Regions from separate parts of the Homo sapiens genome. Here regions 2, 3 and 4 are each linked to region 1. Evidence: fine-mapped expression QTL. A gene starts in region 1. Each other region holds a variant in brackets. All regions are shown on one strand. Distances are between the middles of the regions.

Evidence for each region. PIP is the estimated chance that this variant, and not a neighbour inherited with it, causes the effect. A credible set is the group of variants that fine-mapping cannot tell apart.
Region 2: its variant is the best candidate, but not a certain one, in a credible set for the expression of MTARC1 in whole blood (INTERVAL, PIP 0.70).
Region 3: its variant is the best candidate, but not a certain one, in a credible set for the expression of MTARC1 in whole blood (INTERVAL, PIP 0.53).
Region 4: its variant is the best candidate, but not a certain one, in a credible set for the expression of MTARC1 in monocytes (CEDAR, PIP 0.54).

The regions. Positions count from the first base shown.
Region 1 is chr1:220,784,492-220,789,648 of GRCh38, forward strand. MTARC1 (mitochondrial amidoxime reducing component 1) reads left to right here and starts at 2,422. Exons shown (of 7, transcript NM_022746.4): 1 at 2,422-2,728. The coding sequence starts at 2,454. MTARC2 (mitochondrial amidoxime reducing component 2) reads left to right here. Exons shown (of 8, transcript NM_017898.5): 8 at 1-324.
Region 2 is chr1:220,833,468-220,838,624 of GRCh38, forward strand. The region is part of intron 1 of HLX-AS1 (HLX antisense RNA 1); the gene reads right to left. Among named protein-coding and RNA genes, the nearest start is that of LINC01352, 6.8 kb to the left of the region's middle. The variant T/C (reference allele first, on the strand shown) is at 2,698.
Region 3 is chr1:220,866,390-220,871,511 of GRCh38, forward strand. All of the region lies in intron 1 of HLX-AS1 (HLX antisense RNA 1), which reads right to left. Among named protein-coding and RNA genes, the nearest start is that of HLX, 10 kb to the right of the region's middle. The variant CA/C (reference allele first, on the strand shown) is at 2,349.
Region 4 is chr1:220,812,079-220,817,235 of GRCh38, forward strand. It overlaps MTARC1 (mitochondrial amidoxime reducing component 1), which reads left to right. Exons shown (of 7, transcript NM_022746.4): 7 at 1,214-5,157. The coding sequence ends at 1,340. Among named protein-coding and RNA genes, the nearest start is that of LINC01352, 15 kb to the right of the region's middle. RefSeq lists an enhancer at 639-1,838. The variant G/A (reference allele first, on the strand shown) is at 2,926.

The DNA.
Region 1 (5,157 bases):
TTTAGTACTCTATTACACCTTTACTAAGCCACATAAAAGTAATCTGTTTGTGTGTAACTGCCAGATATACCACCTGGAATTCCAAGTAAGATAAGGAAGAGGATGACATTTAAAAGAGAATGGAATTTTGAGAGTAGGAATGCAAGGAAGACAGCATGAACATATTTTTTTCAGTGCAAATAATTTTTTCGTAACAAAGAAACGAACAACTTTGGTATGATCTTAAGCAAAAATACTCACTGAAATAGTATGTGGATGAATTCACCTACTTACAATTTTATGGTTTCTTTGTAAATAATAAATGTGAATCTCAATCCTGCTTTATCTTTGGTATTTATGAGTCTTCTTCCTGGGTTTTTCTCTTTATATTAGAATTTGAGTCACTGCAATTTATTTTTCCTTACCCTTTCTGATTGCCTCCAGAGATACAATCTGACTCCACAAACACTGGCTTCTGTCATTGGCAGGGGGCGAGGGCGTTGTGAGCTGCAGGCACACAGGTGGCCTGTCTGTGGCAGGATGGCCAGTGTCCGCAAGGGGCCTTCCTAGTGGTCAGTGAGGAGTGGCTGTTCCCTCCTCCTCCATTTTCCTTTGCTGGGTTCTGGGACTGAAATTCACCACCATTCCCCGCACCCTGTGAGGTAAAAGTGGTAAGTGAGCTGTAGGCCTGGGTAAATTCTGGAAGTGATGAAATTGAAAAATCAGAACTTCAAAGTCAGCCATTAAAATAGGGAAGCCATTTTTTCCTCTTAAATTTTCAAAGAGGAATTCAGGAGGGAGATAAACAGAAACGCACATTTGGTGCCCCGGAACTGCCTTTCCGAGGAGGATCAAGTCGTGCCTCCTGCTGAGCTGTGTCCTTTACAGACAAGGTGTGACCTGGGGTTGGAAGAGAAGAGAATAGAGCAGAAAAACAGGACAGATAAGTGTTCAGGCCAATAAAGACAGAGCCTCCCTGAGCACTGAACTGCTCTGCAGTGAGTTGCCAGCTGGAGGAAGAGTGTTGTTCTTTTCTCTTGGCGAACTCCCGCTTCTCATCCATGCACCCTTGCCCTGCATGGGCAATTCTGGCTGAGTCTTGCAATGTACACTCCTGGCTCAGGGGACCATGGCTGAGCTGGGGATAACACAGACTCTCCTTGACCAAACTTCGGACTCTCCTGTGCCCTTTTCTTCATGAGGCCTTGACCTTGCCACCCTACTCCCTGCAGAGCCCAGTTTAGCAAGAATCCTGCTTAGTCAGTTTCCAGAGTATTCTCCCATCCTTAATATCTGATCACCCTTGATGTCTGCTCAGATTCCTCATATGTCACCCTCAGTGTGTAAGTCCTTGCCTTGTTCAGTAGAATCCTGTTAAGTGGGTTTATCAAGAATCCTCTACACTTGATGTCTCCGCTTAGTGATTTTCCATTCACTGACCCCGAGGAACTTCGCTCCTTGGCTATGAATCCTGAGCTGTCTTTGCTGTAATACAGAGTTGAGCCTAATCTCTTTCCCCTATTGTGATGCCCCTGTTACAGTAGCCTTGAATAGTCTTCCTTACCTTTTTAACAAGCGTCTGAGGGAATTTTTTTCCTTTAATAGCTTGGTACATCAAGCAGGAGCCTGACTCCTAAACCACGCTGTTCGGGGTATGCTAACATTGTTGTCTGGAATATAACCTGATTTGGAAGTGACAAGTGACTGAGGTGAGTGCCTGCAGGACCAAGTGACTTTCCCTCCCGCCGGAAGCAGCCCGGGGACCTTGTGCAGCGTTAAACTGAGCCAAGGCCCTTGCCAATGCAGCTCCAGCTCGAGGCTCCCCGCCGGTAGGAGTCGAGCGTCCCCGAGCCGTGTAGAAGGCACTCTCAGACGCCCATTGCCGCTCCCAGGGGCCGCCGGGAGAACTCTGGCCTTGGCTCGCCGGCGCGGAGGGCCTGGTAGCATCCTCCTTCATCAGACCCCCACTCTCTGGAAGCTCCTAGCCCCTGGGCAGACTGAGGGGAGGGCGGCGGCAGCAGAGAGCTGGACACTGCACAGGCCAGGCAGGGCCTACCAGCTCTCCACTATTCCCAGGAGAGGCTGCTGCCAGCTGTCTGATTTCTAATTTCAAAATCACGCTTTGTCCTGCAAATGTTGTATATTGTTTATTTTAGGTCAAATAACCCCATAAATACGTAAGTAAATAAATTGGTCACTTGCAGCGATCGTGGGGTGGGGGAGGGCACAGCGCCCTGCAGCGCAGGCGACGGAAGGTTGCAGAGGCAGTGGGGCGCCGACCAAGTGGAAGCTGAGCCACCACCTCCCACTCCCCGCGCCGCCCCCCAGAAGGACGCACTGCTCTGATTGGCCCGGAAGGGTTCAGGAGCTGCCCAGCCTTTGGGCTCGGGGCCAAAGGCCGCACCTTCCCCCAGCGGCCCCGGGCGACCAGCGCGCTCCGGCCTTGCCGCCGCCACCTCGCGGAGAAGCCAGCCATGGGCGCCGCCGGCTCCTCCGCGCTGGCGCGCTTTGTCCTCCTCGCGCAATCCCGGCCCGGGTGGCTCGGGGTTGCCGCGCTGGGCCTGACCGCGGTGGCGCTGGGGGCTGTCGCCTGGCGCCGCGCATGGCCCACGCGGCGCCGGCGGCTGCTGCAGCAGGTGGGCACAGTGGCGCAGCTCTGGATCTACCCTGTGAAATCCTGCAAGGGGGTGCCGGTGAGCGAGGCGGAGTGCACGGCCATGGGGCTGCGCAGCGGCAACCTGCGGGACAGGTACGGCCAAGCGCCGGCGCGGGGCAGCGCTGATCCGGCTCGGGGCAAGGGGGTGAGAAGGGAGGAGCGCAGGGGAGGTCTGCAGAGTCTGCTAACAGGTCCTTCCTCCTATTACAAAGAAACTGGGAGTTGGGTGAGACAAGGCCAAAGAGAAAAAGGAACCCTCACCCCCCAGCATCAGACCCCAGGGCTCTGGGACTCTGAGCGCGTGGACCCGTTTTCCCGGGGTGGGCGGATCTCCACCTCCCACTGGCTCTTTGGCGTCATGTGCTCCTGCTGAGGTGTGGTATCGCTCCCAGGTGTCTGCCAGTGAGCAAACTTCTTAATCTCCATTTAGTGGAGGCGGCTAGCTTGAAGAGGTTGGTTCCCAGTCGCTATTTTGAGTGACTTTCTTGAGATCTTGGAGAAAGCTGAACTGTAGAGTCCAGCCCTCCAAGAGCGCACCAAGGCGGAGCTCATAATAGTAATGACAGCAGTTCAACGAATACCTTCGGGCGCGGTGGCTCACGCTTGTAATCCCAGCACTTTGGGAGGCCGAGGCGGGTGCATTACCTGAGGTCAGGAGTTCGAGACCAGCCTGACCAACATGGTGAAACCGCGTCTCTACTAAAAACAAACAAACAAACAAAAAAACAAAAATTAGCCGGGCGTAGTGGCGCGCACCTGTAATCCCAGCTACTCAGGAGGCTGAGGCAGGAGAATAGCTTGAACCCGGGAGGTGGAAGTTGCAGTGAGCCAGGATTGCGCCACTGCACTCCAGCCTGGGCAACAGAGCGAGACTCCGAATCAAAAAAAGAAAGAAAGAAAGAAAGAGTTGTGGGGGCATTGCAGATGCTATTTTCCCCAATTCTCTCCAATGCTCTCAAGCACTCTTGTGGATAAAGAAGTTGAATTCAGAGCCACACAGCAGCAGAACCAGGACTCTTATTTTCTTTAGCACACTGGGGCTTTGTAAAGAGTGACTTTGTTAATGTCCTGTCTGGGTTCTGAGAGCTGCGTGGATTCCTGGGGTTCAGCGAAGGCTGCAAAACCCGGGAGCCGGCAGCTTTGTCCTCTTTAGGGTCTGGCTTCAGGCCAGCCTCGGGTCTTATTGTGAGGCTGCACTTGAAACTCCTTTCCAGAGCAGCCCTCGCAGTTCAGCAAGTAACACAGGACTAATGGGAGCTGTAACCTTTCTCCTACCAGCTCCCCAGACAGAGGGCAATTCATGACATAGTTGAAAGGTGAGTGACGTATGCATCTTTGCTTCAGGAAGGAAGCCAAGAATCCTAAATATTCCATGTTTTGGGCCAGGCGCGGTGGCTCACTTCTGTAATCCCAGCACTTTGGGAGGCCGAGGCGGGTGGATCACAAGGTCAGGAGATTGAGACCATCCTGGCTAACAGGGTGAAACCCCTTCTCTACTAAAAAATACAAAAAATTAGCCGGGCTTGGTGGTGGGCGCCTGTAGTCCCAGCTACTCGGGAGACTGAGGCAGGAGAATGGCGTGAACCCGGGAGGCGGAGCTTGCAGAGCTCCACTGTGGCAGAGATCTCGCCACTGCACTCCAGTCTGAGCGACAGAGTGAGACTAAGTCTCAAAAAAAAAAAAAATCCATGTTTCGTATAGTAGGCTCTGAAAAGTGGTAGAGTTTTTGTAGGCCCCAGAGGCAAAGGGCACTGGAATTTTACTACTTAGATTCAAAAAGCAGTTTTTGAGCTCATATTACAATAGATGACAAGAAGAGCTGGCCTTTGTACCAGACACTATGATAAATTCTTTATTTTCGTTCATCACACACTCCCAGAAAGTGTGATCAAAAGAAGCCAACACTGGCTTACAGTCCTAGGTTGTGACTAGACTAAACAGAGGTTGTGACACGTGCCAGGGTGCCAGCATAGAGGATGCGACACGTGCCAGGGTGCCAGCATAGAGGATGCAGTGCTGGAAGCTGGCTGGGGCCGTCAGGGACAACATCAGAGAGAAAGTAACAGCTTGAGCTGAAAACTGGAAAACGATTCAGAACTTGCTGGGCAAGTAAATTGGGAGAAGAACTTTCTAGAGAGGGAATAAGCTGGGCAAAGACACTCGGCTTGTGAGGATGGGGTATGCTAGGGGAAAGGCTGGCATAGTCAATGCCAGAGGGGTCCAATCTTTTGGCTTCCCTGGGCCACATTGGAAGAAGAATTGTCTTGGGCCACACATAAAATACACTAACACTAACAACAGCTGATGAGCAAAAACAAAAACAAAAACAAAAAAAATCTCATAATGTTTTAAGAAAGTTTATGAATTTGTGTTGGGCCTCATTCAAAGCTGTCCTGGGCCACGGGTTGGACAAGCTTACTCTAAGGTATTTACCAAAAGGAACTGGGACATAAATAGGATGAATGTTCTTTGCAGCATTGAGTGTTGAATGTTCATTATGATGTTATTCACAGTAGCCAAAA
Region 2 (5,157 bases), 49 kb after region 1:
CACACAGCGCCTCTCCGTTCACCCTGCAGCATTCTCTAACTGGGACTTCAGAAACCCATTAGGAAAAGGAGTGCAGGGTGTGGAGTAAGGGAAGGTTTGGATGAAAGGCTAGGAAATGCTCCCTCAGGGGAAGGGAAATCTGGCACCATCAATAACTTTAAGTCTATAAAATTATTTTCTTCTGGGACTAAAAGCTCACATGATACACTATATTTATCACTCACTGAATCTCATTGTCTTATTCAAAATTTCCACTTCCTACAGTTAACTTCTTTTGGCCCATGACCTGTCACATTTCTTTTATGGCTAGTATATTGAATTTCAACTATCAGCAGTCATTTATTAAAAACAAAACACATCCACAGAAAACCAGGCAGACACAGCTTGATTAATAACAAGTCGGTGCTTTCCTCTCATACTTCTTTCAGGTTAGAGAAGTTGGAAAACTGCTAATGAGTCTTCTGTACCTTTTAAAGAAATGTCTTAGAGTAATCTTACAATTAGGAGTTTCCTATGTCAGGTAGAAATTAAATGCTTTGAAAGCTTCCAGTTTCAAAAAAGGTGGTGAGCTAGCACAGGATATTGGCTTCCTCCCAAAGCCCAATCTTGAAGTGAGAGGAAGTTGCCAGATCCTGAAAATGAAGAGAAAAGCTGTAGAGATTTTCATGGTGAGGGTGGGAGACATGGTAAGGGTGAGACTGGGGGAGGGCAAAATGTCACAGACACTTTGGGTGTGATGAGTAATTTTATGTCAGCTTGACTGGACCAAGGATGCCCTGACATTTGATCAAACATTATCCTGGGTTTGTCTGTGAGGTTGTTTCTGGATAAGGTTGGCATTTGAATTGGTAGACTGAGTAATGCAGATTGCCTTTCCTAATATGGGTGGGCCTCATCTAATCAGTTGAAGGCTTGGCTAGAACTGAAGACTGAGAAAGAGGAAAATTCTTCTGCCGGACTATTTGAGCAGGAACATCGGTCTTTTTCTACCTTTGGATTTGAACTAAAACATCAGCTCTTCCTGGGCTTTGAGCCTGCCACCTTTTGGACTGGAATTTACGCCATCAGCTCTCCTGTTTCTTAGGTGTTTGGACTCAGATTGGAATGACACTTCGGCTCTCCTGGGTCTTCAAGTTGCTGACTACTGACCTTGAGACTTCTTGGCCAGCCCCCATAATCCTGTGAGCCAATTAGTCTCCTGTTGGTTTTGTTTCTCTGGAGAACCTTGACTAACATACTGGAGTTATGCCTGGAAAGTGCTTGCCAGTTGGTTTCTTTCTTTCCTTCATATTTATCTGGATGGATCACTGCCCACCACATTGACCCTATAGGACAGGAAAATAGTTATGCCTCTCAAAGGCAACAGAATAAGATCCTAGATCCTGACCAGGATAGTCAATAGAGATTTGCTGGACAGGCCACTCTGAGGATTCCCTTACCAAAACCTTTTTAACATTCCATTTTACCTCCTCTACTGGTTACTTACCTCTTTCCATTTTTTTTTTAGCAATTGTTCTAGGGATTGCATATGCATCCTTAACTTATCACTTAGAGCTAATATTGCATGAAATATAAGAGCAATATGCAATATGATAGCAATGTCCTGCTGATGCTTTGGGCTTAGAGATTACCACAGAGAAAGACAGCCTCTGAAAAGAGCAGTGCCTGAGTGGAGGTTCTGGGCATTACTACATACCTAGGAATTATAGCAGAATGCAACATCATCCTGAAGTGCTTAGAAGCGTGCCCCTTTCCCAACTCACTTGGAGTCTATACAATCTAGGCATTTGACTCTCCTCCAAGGTATATACGAACAGTAATGGTAGCTGATAGGATTTCAGAAGAAAAAAAAAAAAAAAGAGAATTCTGAGGAACACAAACATCAGTAAAGAAAGGCCAAAAACTGAACAACATATACCAGAGGAAGCAGAGTTAAGGGTCTGGGAAGAACAGGAATATAAATAAATGTAATAAGTATTTTCAAAATTCTAATAAAGGATGTTGGAAACAAGAAGCAGATATAAATTATGAATAGGAGCCAAATGGAAATACAGGGTAGAAAAAATATAATAGTTGAAATAGAGAGTTCAGTGGGATGAAAGTATTTTTTCTTCCTTCCATTTCTTTAAAATATATGAGTGTTTAAAGCAAAAATTAGAGTACTCTCTTTGGGGTTTATAATGTATTGAGATATAATATGTATGTAACAATAGCACAAAGGCTGGGAGTGGACAAATGGAATTATACTGTTGCAATATGCTCTTATATTTCAGGCAATATTAGCTCTAAGTAATAAGTTAAGGATGCATATACAATCCCTAGAACAACTGCTAAACAAAAAATGCGAAGAGGTAAAGCTAAGTAGCCAGTAGAGGCGATAAAATGGAATGCTAAAAAATATTCAGTCATTCGGGTGCGGTGGCTCATGCCTGTAATCCCAGCCCGTTGGGAGGCCATATAAAACCCAAGTTTCTACTTTATGAAACTAGAAGAAGAAGAGCAATTAAACCCACAGTAAATATAAAGAAAGAAATGCTAGGGATAAGAGAAGAAATCAATCACATACAAAATAGAAAAATAATAGAGACAACTAACAAAATCAAAAATTGGTTATTTTGGAAGATTAATGAAGTGAAACATATGTCCACAAAAAGACTTTACAAGAATGTTTATAGCAACTTTATTCATAATAGACAA[T/C]AACTGGAAACCAATGTCTATGAATAGAAGAATAGATAGATCAATGTGGTATAGTCATACAATGGTATACTACTGAACAATACAAAGGAAAGAACTGTTAGAACACACAACAGCATGGATCAATGTCTCAGACATGCTGAGCAAGAGGCAAAACAAAAGGGAGTAGATACTTTATGATCCCATTTATATGAGGCCAAGAACAGGAAAACAGACAAAAATCTATGGTGAAAAAAATAAAATATAAGAAATGGCTGCTGGTGGGAAGGTGGTTGACAAAAGAACTTTCTGGGATCATGGAAATGCTTTATATCTTGATAGCTGTGTGGTTAGATGGGTGATTTCATTTACCACTACTCATCAAACTGCAGTTAAAATCTGTGCATTTCACTTCTGAAGATTGTATATGAAGAAGAACTGTAAGCAAACATTAAACTTATTATGAAGTTTGCTTGTTGAAGTAGTAATGGTTAGCAAAAGAGTAAAAATATTGAGGATAATGGGAGCCAGATTTCCCATTGTTGGAGTTACAAACACAGCAAGAAGGATGAGTAGAATGTACTCTGTGTTGTTGAATTGAGATTAGGGGTATCAGTCTGAACATCAGTATAATAAAATACATGATATATTATATATATTTCCTAGCCATTGTCACCTGAAAAGACCTAAAAGCCATGCCACATCGGCGGCAATGGTTCTATCTAATGCCCAGATCCTGGTTTCTAAATACCACCTTCCATTAAAAGAAATCAGCGTTCTTTGGAGAAAAGGCTGATTCCAGGGCTGGGGCAGAAGTCAACAATGAGCCTAGAACATCTTGTTTGTGCTGGAAAGTCAGGAAGTGCTTGTCCAGTAACGAGGATATGTTAAAACCATATTGGAGCTAGCCTGAAGTGGCTGTCACAGGCCAAATCTATTATAATTTTATAATTGAATAGTAATAAATTAAACTCATTTGACAAAATGAAAATCCATTGATCCATATTGATATTGTCAGTCAATGAATAAATAAATAAATACGGGTAAAGAACAAGCTCTTCCTTACAGCAGAAGGAATGTTGGAGTTAGAAAATTATCAATGGGTGCTAAAACTGAAAAGTGAAAATTTAGGGAAGAAAAGAACATTTACATTGTCTCAAAGGATCTTGCAAAATATTACTTATTAGTTACGAAGGTGAAAATACTACCCTTACAGTGGAGAAATATGGCAGTTTTCACCTTACATCAAGAAGCTTTAGACAAACCCAAATTGAGGAATATTCTACAAAATAACTGATATGTCCTCTTCAGAAAAGTCAAGGTTAAGAAAAAAGGCTGAGAAACTGTTCCAAATTAAAGGAGGTTAAAGAGATAAGCCAACACAGCACAGTGCATGATCCTGGACTGGATACTGGTTTGGGAGAGCAGAATAGCTCTGTGCCCAGTACTGGGACAAATGTTACCATTTGAATATGCAATGTAGATTACATAATCATATTGTATTATGTCAGTGTTAAATATCCAGATTTTGATAATGGAACTGTGACATATAAAAGAATGTTTGTGTTTTTAAGGAAATAAACATTGAAATATTTAGGGATAAAGGGGCTGATATCTCCAGCTTACTCTCAAATGATTAAAAATGCCTACATATAAATAGATAGAAATAGGAAGTAAGGAAGCAAATGGGGCAAAATATGAAATGATTAATAAATCTAGGTAAAGAGTATATGGGCATTTCCTGCACTATTCTTTCAATTTTTCTTTAAATTTGAAATTGTATCAAAATTATAAGTTACCAACAAAATCCATGGGGAAAGGATTGTTTAGTAGAGGCAATCGAAATAGTGAGGAGTTAAAGGCAACCATAAATCTCTTCCCAAGGAACGAATAGTTATGTCAGACACAAATAATGGAATACAATGCAGAGTCAGAATTTTTAAATTATTTATCTGTCATCTATCTTATTTATCAATCAATCTTGAAAGGACAACATGACTAAATCTCAAAAATATATTTTTGCATGAAAAAGTAATGAATATAACGAGATCCACAGATAAATACGATTTGTGTACATTAATCACATATATGCAATAATATCATCATATTTACAGGTATGGACCTAACTAAGAACATAAAGTAGATACCCAGGAGTGGGTGCTTATGGGAGAGAAATGAATGAAAGTCAGGCTGGAAGAATAAAAGGAGAAAATAATAAAGTAAAATAACATAAGAAAGGAGCCTTGCAAGGGATGATGATGATGATATGACATGGACAGAAAAATATGATTAAGTTAAATATTTGCCACTGGTGTCCCAAAAATAGGAGGTGGTGGAAGAAAGGAAACAAAATGTGGAGTCCCTTTCAAGATGCCATTTAGACTCAGGTTTTTAGTTGATTCATTCATAAAACACATACTTGCCTGTGCACCAGGCACCTTGCTAGATGCTGGGAAAATAGTTTGAACGAGATAGGAACTAGGA
Region 3 (5,122 bases), 82 kb after region 1:
ACTTTGGCTCTAGTAATAATTTTTGTTTTAACTTCTATTTTGTGTAATGTTAATATAGCCACTACATCTCTCTCAATATTGTTTTCATGCTATAGCTTTTCCCATTTTTACTTTCAATCTTTTTGTGTCTTTAAAACTCAAGTGTGTCTTTTGTAGATAGCATAGTTGGATCAATTTTTTAAAATCCATTGTGCCAATTTTTACTTCTTTATTGGAGTATTTAATCCATTTACATTTAATGTAACTAAGATTTATACCTGCCATTTTGTTGTTTTCTACATGTCTCATGTTTTTGTTCCTCTGTTCCTCCATTAGTGTATTATTTTGTTTTAGATATTTTCTAGTGTACCATCCTAGTTATATTATCATGTATTTCATATGTATATTTGATTACAATTAGCATCTTGTAACAATCTAATTTGAAGTAATATTAACTCAATTTTCAATAGTGTACCAAAACTTTACTCCTATATAGCTCTCCTTTGTGGCATTATCATCATACAAATTACATCTCTATATATCATAAGCCCCTCAACACAATTTTATGATTATTGCTTTATGCAGTAATCTTTTAAGTAATATAGAAGAATTACAAACCAAAATTACATTTATATTGTCTTTTATTTTTACTTATGTAGTTGCCTTTACCAGTGCTTTTTATTTTTTTCACGTGAATTCTAGTTACCATCTAGTGTCATTTTATTTCAGCTTTAAGAACTCCCTTTACTATTTTTTTTTTGTAGGGCATGTCTGCTAGTGATGATTCTCTCAGTTTTTGTTGACTTAGGAAAGTTTTAATTTCTATTTCGTTTTTGAGGGATATTTTTGGTGTCTACAGTATGATTTTTTTGACAAGTTTTTCTTTCTACACATTAAATATGCCATCCCATTGTCTTCTGGCCTCCATGGTTTCTAAGAGAAATAAGAAATTTGCTGTTTATCTGATTGAGAATTCTTTATATGTGATAAGTTGCTTCTTACTTGCTGTCTTCAAGAATGTCTTTGTCTCTCAACAGTTTAATTATGATATGTCTAGGTACAGGTCTCTTATACTTCATTGAGCTTCAGCTACATTGGCTGTGTGGATAAATGTTTTTTCCTAAAATCAAATTTGAGAAGTTTTCTGTCGTTTTTCTTCAAATATTCTTTGTGCCATTTCTTTCCTTTCCTTCTCGGACCCTCATTATGCACATGTTGGTGCAATTGGTGATGTCCCATAAGTCTTTGAGTTCCTGCTCATTTCTCTTCATTAATTTTTATTTCTGTTCTGCAGACTGGATAACATCTACTGACCCATCTATAAATCCACTGTTTTTTTTTTTCTGCCAGCTCAAATCTGCTATTGAGCTCCTCTAGTGAATATTTTATTTTAGTCATTGTACTTTTTGACTCCAGAATTTCTATTTGGTTCTTTTAAATAATTCCTATTTCTTTATTGACATTCTTTATTTGGTGATACATCATTCTCACATTTTCCTTTAGTTCTTTGAACATATTTATAATAGCTGATTTTAAGACTTTTCATAGTAAGTCCAATGTGTGGACTTTCTCTGGGACAGTTTCTATTGACTACTTTATTTTCTTGAGTATGGGGCATAATTTCCTGTTTCTTTGTATGTTTTTTTTTTTTTTTTGAGATGGAATCTCGCTCTGTCGCCCAGGCTGGAGTGCAGCGGCGCGATCTCAGCTCACTGTAAGCTCCGCCTCCCGGGTTCAAGCAATTCTCCTGCCTCAGCCTCCTGAGTAGCTGGGACTATAGGCACCCGCCACCACACCCAGCTAATTTTTTTTTTTTTTTTGGATTTTTAGTAAAGATGGGGTTTCACCGTGTTAGCCAGGATGGCCTCGATCTCCTGACCTTGTGATCCACCTGCCTTGGCCTCCCAAAGTGTTGGGATTACAGGGGTGAGCCACCGCGCCTGGCCTGTTTGTATGTCTTGTAGCATTTGTTTGTTTTAGAGATGGTATCTTGTTGTGTTGCCCAGGCTAGTCTCAAACTCCTGGCCTCAAGGGATCCTCCCTCTCACCTCAGTCTCCCAAGTAGCTGGGACTGCAGGCACACTTCACCATGCCGTGTGTGTGTGTGTGTGTGTGTGTGTGTGTGTGTGTGTGTGTATTTAACTCAACATTTTAAACAATATAACGTGACAACTCTGGAAAGCAGATCCCTCCCCTCAACAGGGTTTGTTATATTTATTATTTGTTATTGTAGTTGTTTGTTTAGTGACTTCTCTGAGCTAGTCGTATAAAGTCACTGTTCTTTTTCACATGTAGCCACTGAGGTCTCTGTTTGGTTAGCTTACCATTCAACAAATTATTGGACAGAGATTTCCTTATGTGTCTTGCAT[CA/C]ATAACTCTTACCACCTTTGTCAAGAGACTCTGTGTATGTGTTCGGAGTGCAACTTTAATGGTCTTGCAAGCAGATTACAAGTAAATGTTAGCCTTTATTGTGTGCCTTTGCATAGCCTCAATTTCAGTCAGAGGTGAGTGATTAGGGCCTCTTTAGGTTTTGGGTGGCATCTGCACAGCTCTGCATATGTACATCATCTTCTAAATTCCAATGAATATGTCAGAATTTTACAAAGCCTCCTCGGGACAGTTTATTCTCCAGCCTATCTTTTTAACTTTTTTGTCAACTTCTTGTTTGTCCTCAACTGTTATTGCAGCCACAGGCAGCTGCAATGTGAAAATCATTGCTCATTATTTTGACCAATGCCCCTAGGCTCTGAGTTAGGTGAAATAAAAGTCAGTCCTGCAAGTGAGGGTCTTCAGAGAGCTGCCAGAGAGATCAAAGACGGACAATTCTCTGGGGATGAGACTTTTGGGTACCTCCAAAACTATCCCCCTCACCCCCATCTCCCGGCTCTAGTTACTGCTAGGCTGCTGGTTTTCATAAGACCACGATGGTGAAGCTGTTGGCTTTCAGATTTTCATGATACCATGACGGTGAAGCTGTTGGCTTTCAGAGCTATCACTAAAACTGAGGAGACAGAAATCAGAATACAGCAGGTGAAAATGCTACAAATCTTATCACTTTTACCAAGATTCTGCCATTTTTCTCGAACAAACACTTTTCAAATTGTTACGAGGTTTTGGTTAATTTCCAGAGTTCTGAAAAAGTTGATTCCTGACTCTACTTCCAGTGTTCTTGTTGCTTTTATAGAGGACTGGATTTGTTTTGTCCATTGGCTTTGTCCCATTATTCTTCCTAGCTTTGTTGCACTGCATACTTGGTATATGATATTAATACCTTCTACATCTCCATCTAAATTGTAGACACCAGTGTTGCCCAAGAGTGGACCAGCAACAGTTTGAGGCATATTCCTCAGATTGAACCAACCCCTCTGGGTTCATGTCAGTTACCGGGTGTCAAGGTTGAAGCATTCAATCAATGAGCGTCACATCATTAATCCATATTTCATCATCTTCTCCTAAAGTCTAATATGCAGCCACTGTTAAGTGTTTTGCTTATGTCAAAATGCAGTTTTCAAGTGTTATTACTCTTACTTCTTAATTCTCTTATCCTGCTTTATTTTTCTCCCAGCATTTTTTCCCTATTAACACATATCTAGCCACTTTTTGCCTGCTTCACCACTAGAATGCATGCTTCTTGAAAGCCAGAAGTTTTGTTTTGTTTTACTCGGTTGCCAGTATCTAGATGAACTCCTGGCATATAGTACCTGGCTCAATACATTATTTGTGAATGTAATGAATGAATTAATGAACTTAATAAACTTTTTAGAAAAAAAGTTATTAATTTAACATAACTTGTTATTTAAAAACAATCTGTATTGCTTCAGTGGAATCCTATAAACCTTTCAAAAAGCAGACAATTAATGTACTTGATACTCCAGTCCAAAATTTCCAGGGAACAATATATTTACTAATCTGAAGTTTAAAACCCCTTTAAAATTAGGCCTATTTTTTGGCTCTAGGTTTTGGCATCTCTCTTATTCCTCACAAATTCCCAAAGATATAGTTAACAGTGAATCTAAGATCACATCAGAAAGTTTTTTAGTACTTTGGGATTAAAAAGTAGTAAACCAGAGCTCTCAAGGACTAAACTAATTTAAAGCAACTGCTTTTTCAAAAAAGTTCTTTCAAGGAAGAGGGAATAGTAAAAGCATGTACTATAGTGAAATTTCAAATTTACCTTCATTGTTTAAAAATTATTTATAATTTCAAAAACATTCTCCCTGAATAAGAAGATCTAAGTAAACTAAGAGTTGGATAATTCTTATTTCTCTCTGTTATCAGCGATCGCATCATTTTCACTGAAACCTGGTACTTTTTCATCCTTCTGTGTAGGCACAGATTTAAAAGTCCCATTTGCTACCAATCACATACTTTACAAGTCTAACTTCACTATGGGCTCTAGGCATTCTGCAAGTACACTTAGAGGTTCCTGCCACTCTCTTGACTTTGTCTTTGTAAACTCCGGTTTTGCTTTTTTAAAGATTGAAGCCTATTGAAGAGCCCCCTATGCAGCCATGTGGGCTTCTTTGGATGCCTCACTTTTCCACTGGGATTATAGACAGTTGTTAGGTCTGGATTTGGGTTTGAGAATCCCCCAGTCTCTCCAAGACCTATTCCCCATTACTGTCTCCAGCCATAGGATTAATATTACATCGTTCACATGATAGCTCTGTAAACACCCAAATTTTTCTCTATTTCTTAAGTAACATCCAACATAACAAGTCTACTGAGGTATTCCTGCTTTAAAAAATCAAACTGCTGGCCGGGTGCCGTGGCTCATGCCTATAATCCCAGCACTTTGGGAGGCCGAGGTGGGTGGATTATTTGAAGTCAGGAGTTCAAGACCAGCCTGGCCAACATGGTGAAGCCCCGTCTCTACTAAAAATACAAAAATTAGTCAGGCATGGTGGCAGGCGCCTGTAACCCCAGCTACTCGGGAGGCTGAGGCAGGAGAATCGATTGAACCTGGGAGGCAGAGGTTGCAGTGAGCCAAGATCATGCCACTGCACTCCAGCCTGGGCGACGGAGTGAGACTCTATCTCCACAAACAAAGAGACACCAAACTGCTTTCATAATGGAACTTATGTTGAAAGCATTAAGAAGAGGAATTTATTGAAAATAACACAGTGAACACAGTGAAAATAAC
Region 4 (5,157 bases), 28 kb after region 1:
ATGTGGTGTTTGATTTGGGCCTTGAGGCAGGTACAATTCTAAAGCATGGGGACCTGGAGGAGGAGCATCCCACAGGAATCACAGAGGACTTACCGAGTCAGTACAATGCAAAGCAAGGTGAAATCCAGCAGAGAGCTGCAGAGGCACAGGTAAGGAGCAGATGGCAACAGGTCTGAAAAAGCAGGCTGGGGCCAGGTAGAGCCCTACATACCAGGCTGAATAGTTGGAATGTTATTCTTTAGGCACTGGAGAGCCACGGAAGGTTTGTGAGCCTAGGAATGATAAGACCAGAACACAATTAAAACAGTGATATAGTGCAGTGTCAACAATGAATTGAAAACAGGTAGAGAATGAGGAAAAGAGGTTGGTTAAGAAGTTATTATGATAGTCTGAGCATGCTGGAAGCAAGATCGTGACAGTCGGAATGAGGAAAAGCAAGCCAAGTCAAATGATGTTGTACAGGAAGAACCTTGGAACTCGGCAGCTGCGGACAGGCTGTGGGAAGAGAGGACAGTGGTGTAAAGGATGGGCTCCCAGCCCAAGTGACGGCTAGGATGGTGGTTCAGGTGACAGACATGGAGGAGACAGGAGGAAAGATGCCTAGGGCAAAGGAAGATGATAAAGTATGTCTAGACACATTGAGTATCTAATTTTTTTTTTTTTTGAGACGGAGTCTTGCTCCATTGCCCAGGCTGGAGCGCAGTGGCACAATCTCCGCTCACTGCAAGCTCCGCCTCCCAAGTTGATGCCATTCTCCCACCTCAGCCTCCCGAGTAGCTGGGACTACAGGCACCTGCCACCACTCCTGGCTAATTTTTTGTATTTTTAGTAGAGATGAGGTTTCACCGTGTTAGTCAGGATGGTCTTGATCTCCATCCTGGTTGTGATCTGCCAGCCTCGGCCTCCCAAAGTGCTGGGATTACAGGCATGAGCCACCACACCTGGCCAAGTATCTAACGTCTTAATGCCGAAAGGGGGAACATGAAGGTAGAGAAAAGATGTGGGGATGTGGCCATTGCTTATGCTTCTGTCGTTGTTTGCTGGGCAGGCTGTTCACTGCCCCACTCCAGGAGGCGCTGTTCTGTTGAGCTTTGACGGGATGGTGCCCTCTCGAGCTGTGCGTGCGGAGGCCCTGTGTGGGATGGAAGCCACGTGCTGGTTGAGCTCTTGCATCCGCTTGGCTGTGACTCATCATGATCTTTTCCTATTGCAGTTATCGCCAGTGTGACCCTTCAGAACGAAAGTTATATGGAAAATCACCACTCTTTGGGCAGTATTTTGTGCTGGAAAACCCAGGGACCATCAAAGTGGGAGACCCTGTGTACCTGCTGGGCCAGTAATGGGAACCGTATGTCCTGGAATATTAGATGCCTTTTAAAAATGTTCTCAAAAATGACAACACTTGAAGCATGGTGTTTCAGAACTGAGACCTCTACATTTTCTTTAAATTTGTGATTTTCACATTTTTCGTCTTTTGGACTTCTGGTGTCTCAATGCTTCAATGTCCCAGTGCAAAAAGTAAAGAAATATAGTCTCAATAACTTAGTAGGACTTCAGTAAGTCACTTAAATGACAAGACAGGATTCTGAAAACTCCCCGTTTAACTGATTATGGAATAGTTCTTTCTCCTGCTTCTCCGTTTATCTACCAAGAGCGCAGACTTGCATCCTGTCACTACCACTCGTTAGAGAAAGAGAAGAAGAGAAAGAGGAAGAGTGGGTGGGCTGGAAGAATATCCTAGAATGTGTTATTGCCCCTGTTCATGAGGTACGCAATGAAAATTAAATTGCACCCCAAATATGGCTGGAATGCCACTTCCCTTTTCTTCTCAAGCCCCGGGCTAGCTTTTGAAATGGCATAAAGACTGAGGTGACCTTCAGGAAGCACTGCAGATATTAATTTTCCATAGATCTGGATCTGGCCCTGCTGCTTCTCAGACAGCATTGGATTTCCTAAAGGTGCTCAGGAGGATGGTTGTGTAGTCATGGAGGACCCCTGGATCCTTGCCATTCCCCTCAGCTAATGACGGAGTGCTCCTTCTCCAGTTCCGGGTGAAAAAGTTCTGAATTCTGTGGAGGAGAAGAAAAGTGATTCAGTGATTTCAGATAGACTACTGAAAACCTTTAAAGGGGGAAAAGGAAAGCATATGTCAGTTGTTTAAAACCCAATATCTATTTTTTAACTGATTGTATAACTCTAAGATCTGATGAAGTATATTTTTTATTGCCATTTTGTCCTTTGATTATATTGGGAAGTTGACTAAACTTGAAAAATGTTTTTAAAACTGTGAATAAATGGAAGCTACTTTGACTAGTTTCAGATCTTACTAACTTCTTGGCACAAAGTTAGACTGTGAAAGCTGACTGAGGCTGGGCACAGGGGCTCATGCCTGTAATTCCAGCACTTTGGGAGGCCAAGGTGGGAGAATGGCTTGAGCCCAGGAGTTTGAGACCAGCCCAGAAAATATAATGGGATCCTGTCGCTACAAAATGTTTTTAAAATGCACTCGGTGTGGTGGTGTGTGCCTGCAGTCCTGGCTATGGCTACTCGGGAGGATGAGGTAGAAGGATTGGTTGAGCCCAGGAGCGGGAGATTGAGGCTGCAGTGAGTTATGATTGCACCACTACACTCCAGCCTGAGTGATAGAGTGAGACCCTATCTCTAAAAAAGAAACAGGAAAAAAAAAGAAAGCTGACTGAGGTGAATGGGCAAAGCCAGTAATTCTGACACCTGACCACAGCTGGGTCTTCTGCATAATGGACCTCCTCACCCACAGCCTCCCAGGCAAGCACCCATGTTTGAAGGACTATCAAGTCAACATGCTTTTTACCAAAAGCTGCACATTTTTCACTTTGATTTTATAAAAGAGGTCAGTAATCGCTGAAATCTAGCTGAGCCCTGAAGTAAAGTTCTGAGCAAAGAGGT[G/A]CATGTGCTTGTTTTATGGTTGGTGAATTATTACAGTTTGTTTTCTGCATGCTTGGCATGAGGTGAATAATTACATCAATTTTCCAGAGAACCTGGGCCATCACCTTCCCCAACAAGTCCAGTTGATGTTGAAACTACAGATAGATTGAGACAAAGCGAAGTGTTCAGCAAGTAGCATTACTAATGGGACCGGGGGACCCGTGGGAGAGTGAGTGTACACAGGATTTAGGAAACCATGTGAATATGGGCTCTCTGGGAATAGCCAATAGGTAGGGAGCAATCAGAAACCCAAGGTTTGGTGGCTCTTCCTAGGTATTTATAATTAGTGGCAAGTGAAAGCCTTAGTCCTGAATTTCTAACCACTTGTAAGAACTAACAGCCACTTCTCTGTGCCCCGTCCGGGCAGTAACCATCATTCTCCATGGACAGGCTCTCGGGGTAGCTAGCTCTGCAGGGCAGCACCCACGTGGAAGGGAGCACCCAGAAACCCTCCTCACTGGGCAGACCTGTCCTTCTGTGCCTCACAGTGTGAGGAAGATTCCTGTTTGAAGAGAGAAGTTCCAGTGACCTCTAGAATCTCAGAGTAGTTGCCAAGCTTTCTGTCAGTGAGATTTAAAGGCCATTTACTTGTGTTTATTTTATATTTAATGAGTTGGTTAATGCCAGAGACAAAGCTGATATCCCATTTATTTTGGATACTGAGCATTTGCACACTATTCCACTTGAAATATAGAATCAGGAATGTAGGCCATCCCAGACTTTCAGATCTTACAACAGCAAATGACAGATGTTTGAGATCAGGCCAAAATATCCACCCTCGGTGGGCATCTCCTCTGTGTGGCAACTTATGCTGCAGCCACAGTGGGGAGTCACAAACTCAGAGCTGGAGGTCTTGAAAAGGACAATGTGGGCCAGGCTCCGGAGGGGCTGCCTAAAGGCTTGCTTTTGTGACTCTCCTGCAGAAAATGTTAGAAACTTCCAACCGAAAGACGAGGGCAGCAACTTATACACACGAAGGCAGAAAGAAATTGGGGAAGGGGAGGCTGTTGGAATTCAGGCCGTTGTCCTATAGGGAGAAATACTCCTCCTCTCCTTCTCCCTTTACTGATAACGGGGCATGGTGAGGAGATGAGCTTGTGAGGGTCTGCCAGTTTGGTAAGAGTGCATGGGGAGGTTGGGTAAATTAGACTAGCCAAATGGGACTTCGGGAAACCATTTATGAGGCTGTCACCAACAGTGATGGCAGGCTGAAATTCCAGGCAAGTGCTCCCAGCATTCCAAGAGTGTATCAAATTAAAGCAACCCATGATGGTGGAGAACAGATACATTAAAGTTCCTTGAAAATGACAGAGTGGCTCTCAGACCAGACCTTGATTGTGGGTATAATCGGAGTGTTGCTACCACACCCTAACACTGCATTTCCCGTGTTTTATTGGTCCATGGAATTCTGAAAGTTTGCCTTTCGGGATGCTTCTAAAAACAATTCCATGGACCAGTAAGTTTGGAAAGTCCTGCGTGCCTCACTTCTCTTCAAAGGCAAAAGGCTCTGGAGAGGCCTTCATGAAGACATCTGTGTTTAATGCTGCCCTTCCCAAAGGTCTGTTTTTGACTGTCTTTTGAGAAATGATCCTCTGATCTCTAGGCAGAATGCCAGTGAGCCAAGGAATCCCAGTTAGCAGGAGGGGTGCACTCATGGGAAGACTGAAGAAGTTAAAAGTTCCCGCCAAGTGAAGGAGACCTATCTTGGGACACTTCCCCTTGTCCTCTCCCTTGCCCCTCTTGCTGGAGTAAAAGGATGGAACTGGGACTTGATAGGTTAAAGGAGGTGTGGAGAAGTGTCTTAGACCAGCTCTCCTGTTGTGGGCCTTAGGGAGAAGCACTCTCTTTCTTCGGGATCATTTTCCAAACATGCATTTTTGGATGGATAGGGTGGATCAGGGTGAGGGAAGGGAAACCAAACTCTCTCTAACCTTGCCCTTACAGCAATACCTGTGATGTAAGTTACAAAACCACCTGTGATGAAAGTGCTCCAGGATGCTTCATGCACCAGGGAGGGGTGCCCTGTTTCTCTTCTGCTAGCTTCTCCTTTCTTTTTTTTTTTTCTTCTTTTTTTTGAGACAGTGTCTCACTCTGTTGCCAGGCTGGAGTGCAGTGGTGAGATCTCAGCTCACTGCAGCCTCTGCCTCCCAGGTTCAAGCAATTCTTCTGCCTCAGCCTCCCGAGTAGCTGGTG